2 separate regions of the Homo sapiens genome follow, and region 2 is linked to region 1. Evidence: fine-mapped expression QTL. Tissue or cell type: whole blood. Region 1 holds a variant in brackets; the other region holds the start of a gene. All regions are shown on one strand. Distances are from middle to middle.

What was found. PIP is the estimated chance that this variant, and not a neighbour inherited with it, causes the effect.
Region 2: ACAA1 starts here. The variant in region 1 is fine-mapped to the expression of ACAA1 in whole blood (INTERVAL, PIP 0.98).

What each region holds. Positions count from the first base shown.
Region 1 is chr3:38,086,361-38,089,042 of GRCh38, reverse strand. It overlaps DLEC1 (DLEC1 cilia and flagella associated protein), which reads right to left. Exons shown (of 37, transcript NM_007335.4): 9 at 2,666-2,682; 10 at 655-747. Among named protein-coding and RNA genes, the nearest start is that of DLEC1, 48 kb to the right of the region's middle. The variant G/A (reference allele first, on the strand shown) is at 1,518.
Region 2 is chr3:38,135,962-38,138,643 of GRCh38, reverse strand. ACAA1 (acetyl-CoA acyltransferase 1) reads left to right here and starts at 1,517. Exons shown (of 12, transcript NM_001607.4): 1 at 1,517-1,779; 2 at 1,959-2,052. The coding sequence starts at 1,609. RefSeq lists enhancers at 1-299, 1-402.

The DNA of each region.
Region 1 (2,682 bases):
GTGGAGTCAGACTCCTAGACCAGGAGTCGGGGAGAGTGGCAGTGTGCTGCAACAGGGACAGGAAGTATCACCATTTCTCATGGGCACCTCTGGGGACCAGCAAGCAGGTGTGATCAGCTGAAGGGGGCAGCAAAAGGGGCCAGTTAGGAAAGGAGACGCCCACAGCCAGGGGCAGACCACTGAGAGCTTCTGCAGAGGTTCAGGATGAGGCGTAACGGAGTTGGGCCTTGCTGACTATACAAACTGAGGATGAAGCAGGAAAGTGAGAACAAAGCCACAATAACCGCAATAATCAGGTACCAGATGATAGAGGGGCCTGGGGGAGGGAAGACCCAAGAGAGACTGAAGAACCAAGCGAAGATCTTGGAGGCAGCTTGGACATTGGTGGAGGTAGCTCCCAGACTAAAGGTGTGGACTAGCAAGGCTCAGGTTTGTGATGTGATGCTAGGGCTATCTGCATTTGCTTTGTGAAAATGCTCATAAGACAGTCAAATGACATCTGACATCACCCTACAGAATGCAAGAATATGCGTCTACCCAGAAGTCACTAAGGCTGTGATATGGGATGGGACTGGACACTTGAGTCATGAAAACAGAGACAAATGCAAGCATGCAAGCAGTTGAGGAAATACATGCCAATGTCTGATTACCTACCTCCACTAATATAGCATGTCCCGGGGCCAGCTCAAACACCGAAGGCAGGATTCCAAAAGGAGGTTGTTCAACAAAGCCGACGGTTGCAATGGCCTTAAAGAAAAGCAGATTACCCAACAGTGTGGAAGACATTGTAAAAGCCAGTATTCAGATTGCAAACTTCTCTCCTTCAAACATCCATTTTGCAATGTGAAGGAACTTAAGGATCATCCAGTCACATGGTAATGAAAAAACTGAGGCTTATTCATTCAGCAGGCATTTACTCAGCCATCACCAGGTACCAGGTGAGGTTCTGAAGGTTAAGGAGAGTAAGTCTTAGAACATCTGTGAAGAGCTGACTACTGACAGGAGGTACAAGGAACACCATCACCAAGTGATTGGGACACAAAGTGACAAGCGTGTGAGAAGGTCTCACTCAGGAGGTGAGCTGAGTGGGCCCTCCCCTGGGCTCCCAAAGCACATTGTCCTTTTCCTACAGTAACACCCAGTGTCACAGGTGCTAGCATATGTGTCTGCCTCCAACCCTGACCCACCCCTGGCTACAAGCTCCTGAGGCACGAGAGCTGCAGCCCCAGTGCCTACACAAGAAGTCACTTAGCATGCCAGGGACACAAACCCATGCCTACAAGACCCTGGTCAGTAACAGAAATGAGTGAAATGTCTTTCTTGGAACATCTTGAAATGTCATCCTCTAGATGTATCCCTTGTTTTCTGGGTACAAATAAATATCTTTGCTATGAGAAAAATAATGGTGTGAGCATGCTAATGGATGGTGTCAGTGCTGATGGATGGTGTGAGCATGCTGATGGATGGTGTCAGTGCTGATGGATGGTGTGAGCATGCTGATGGATGGTGTCAGTGCT[G/A]ATGGATGGTGTCAGTGCTGATGGATGGTGTGAGCATGCTGATGGATGGTGTCAGTGCTGATGGATGGTGTGAGCATGCTGATGGATGGTGTCAGTGCTAATGGATGGTGTCAGTGCTGATGGATGGTGTGAGCATGCTGATGGATGGTGTCAGTGCTGATGGATGGTGTCAGTGCTGATGGATGGTGTGAGCATGCTGATGGATGGTGTCAGTGCTGATGGATGGTGTCAGTGCTGATGGATGGTGTGAGCATGCTGATGGATGGTGTCAGTGCTGGGATGCTCTTGGGACTGGTGGAGCTGGGCACTCAGGACAAGGTACACAGGGCCTGCCCCCAGCCCTGGCCAACAGGCTCACAGTGAATCCTGGCCCTGGCCTTCATATCTTCCAGTTTTTCAAAGGACTGGAAATGTAGAACTTTATATAAAATCTCCATTTTTTTTTTTTTTTTGAGATGGAGTCTCACTCTGTCGCCCAGGCTGGAGTGTAGTGGTGCGATCTCGGCTCACTGCAACCTCCACCTCCCGGGTTCAAGTGATTCTCCTTCCTCAGCCTCCTGAGTAGCTGGGACTACAGGCACATGCCACCACACCCGGCTAATTTTTTATTTTTAGTAGAGACGGTGTTTCATCATATTGGCCAGGCTGGTCTCAAACCCCTGACCTCAGGTAATCTGCCTGCCTCAGCCTCCCAAAGTGCTGGGATTACATGTGTGAGCCACTGCGCCTGGCCAAATCTCCTTATTTTTAAATGTTGGCTCAGAAAATGTTAAGTGCTGTGCCAAACAAATACCAGCAGAATTTGGCCAAAGGGCAGCCAATTTGTAACCTCTGAACTATTCAGTCATTTGCTACAATAAAGAAGGACTGAATGAGTGAATGCAGTCACATTTGAGCCAGGGCTTGAAGGATAAGAGAGGTGATACCGCTTGCCCAGCATGGTACAGGTATTAGTGACATAACCAGAACTACAACACTGGACCCTTATACATCCATTCTCATTCGGGTTGTGGCAGTTGCATAGAGAGTTTACAACACTCTGCGTTCTGTGTGTTTCCAATCATAGGTATACTCTAGTAAGTTCCTCTGGGGGTTATTTCCTTTGATGGACTTGTAATTTTTCCAGTTAGCAACCTGTGATCACTCACCTTGAAACTTAGTGGTG
Region 2 (2,682 bases), 50 kb before region 1:
CTTTCTCCTGCGGCACCCGCCCCGCCCCGCCGGCTTTCGCTTTCCGAGAAGCGCCGCCCTGCCCTACAATCTGGAGCCCCGAGCAAAAGTGCGGAGGCGGGGGTGCCCACCTCTACCCTTGAGGTCTCGAGGCGGGTGATGTGGGGGGCGTAAGAAGTAGGAATCTGCCTTTTGAGATCTGGAGAGGTCCACGGCACCGCCCTCGAGGGTCTGGTGATGGTGCTAGTAGGTTGGCGGCGGAGTGAGGACGACCCTCCTTCGGGGGTTGTAGGAAACGGGCCTTGCTTTTTGGGATCTGGTGGAGCCACAGTTCTTCCACGGAGGAATCTGAGGGGTTCATACGGTCCTGCCCTCGAGGATGGCGAGGAGGGGACAAGTGGGAAGGCACCAGCTCTGCCCTCCACTGTCTCTGGGGAACACGCAATCCTGCCAGTAGGGGTATGGGAAGACCCCTGCTGTGCTCCCCGAGGTGGGAGTGGGAAACGGACAGCTGCCTTCTGGAGCCTGAGGCATGCCGTGGCCCTGCCCTCGAAATGGTTGGGGACGTCATGACACTAGGTTGGGGAGCACAAGGCACCCTGTCCTTTGGTGTCTGTGGAAAGCCCAGCACTACTCTCCAGGGTCTCAGGTGAAGACATGGCCCTGCTATTGGGAGTCAAGGGGGCACGTGGCCTTGCCCTTTAGGTTTAGGGACACAGTCCTGACCTGGGGAGCCCTGGTTCATTCATTTACTCATTCGACAAGTACTTATTGATCATCTACTAAGTGTCAAGGGTGTCGCAGGCTCCCCGGATACATGGTACCTCTCTGCCTTGGTGGAGACCCCAGCCTAGCACGGGAAATGGGCACTAATAAAATCATTCCAATTGGGTGTAAAACTGGTAAAAGTGTGAAATGTTCATTCTCCAGTTAGAGAGCTTGTCACACCCCGCATGTCTGTAAAATCTGTTCTCCCGGCCAGCCCGGAAGCCCAAATTCCCTGTCTTCTCGAAAGAATGGGAAAGCCCAACCACGTCGGAGCAGGACTCGGGCGTCTCGGAAGTATTTAGGTCCCCCAGCTCGGGTACTGGGACCGGAGGGATAGCAGAGCCTCCTAGGAAGTGGGTAGAGGAATTAGAGCCTCGGCTTCCATCTCCAGCCCCCAAGCAGTAAGCGGTCCTGGCTGCCCAGCCTTCCGTTTGGCTGCGGGCAGGAGACAGGGATTTGGGGGTCAGGTCTCGGGTTTGGCTACAAAAGGTGGAAAGACTTCCGGTCTGCATTTCTGGGCGGGGATTCGTAAAGATACACCTTCTGGTTGGCTGCGGTAGGCCAAGGTAGGCGGGGCATTGAGTGGAAAGCTCGGCTGGGCGGTGCCTGTGGGCCCTCCTATAGAGGGCTTGGTAGGCGGTGGCGGGGAGGGGCGGGTTCCCAGGCCGACTCTCCTTGTGGTTGGCTGAGGCTGGAGGTGGACGGGACTTTTGGAGGGTCGCTCGCGTCTGTTCGCAGAGCTGTGGGCGGAGTTGAGGCCTTGGAGGCTGAGATGTGGTTCTGCGCGTGTGCGGACGGCTGTCTGTTAACTCCGCGGTCAGTTCCCGGACTGGTGGCTGGTCTGCAGGGTTGACCTGCGCAATGCAGAGGCTGCAGGTAGTGCTGGGCCACCTGAGGGGTCCGGCCGATTCCGGCTGGATGCCGCAGGCCGCGCCTTGCCTGAGCGGTGCCCCGCAGGCCTCGGCCGCGGACGTGGTGGTGGTGCACGGGCGGCGCACGGCCATCTGCCGGGCGGGCCGCGGCGGCTTCAAGGTGAGGCCCGAGGGTCTGGGCGCCGAGTGTGGGAAGACGCCGGCGCGGGCTGGGGTCCGGTTCGTATGTTTGGTTATCCTGGACGCCGGAGGCAGCTCCGCACCCAGCTGTGGTCGCTTTGTCTCCCTGGGGTGGGCATGGGGGAGTGGGGGTCACTGCGGCTGCTCTTTCTGCTGCAGGACACCACCCCCGACGAGCTTCTCTCGGCAGTCATGACCGCGGTTCTCAAGGACGTGAATCTGAGGCCGGAACAGCTGGGGGACATCTGTGTCGGTGAGCGAACCACTCAGGCCCTGCGCTGGGCCTTCCCCGTTCTTCCGTTCGTCCAGAGCTCTCCTCACCTCCCCGCCCCGAATTTTCACTGGGGGAACCTCCATGGCCTTGACCTTTGAAGGGGTCCTGCCCCTTCACACCTGTGGGTATTTCTCGTCAGATGGGAGGAGAGACTGAGAAAAGAAATAAGACGCAGAGACAAAGTGTAGAGTGGGCCCAGGTGACCGGCATCGGTCTCCGAGTTCCCTCAGTATTTATTGATTACTATTTTCACTATCTCGGCAAGGGGAGTGCGGCAGTGTGGGGGAAAGGAAGAGAGATCAGACTGTTACTGTGTCTGTGTAGAAAAGGAAGACAGAAGAAACTCCATTTTGATCTGTACTAAGAAAAATTTTTCTGCCTTGAGATGCTGTTAATCTGTAGCCTTAGCCCCAACCCTGTGCTCACAGAAACATGTGCTGTATTGAATCAAGGTTTGAGGGATTTAGGGCTGTGCAGGATGTGGCTTGTTAACCATTTGTTTGCAGGCAGTATGCTTGGTAAAAGTCATCGCCATTCTCCATTCTCGATTAACCAGGTACACAGTGCACTGCGAAAGGCCGCAGGGACCTCTGCCCAAGAAAGCCTGGG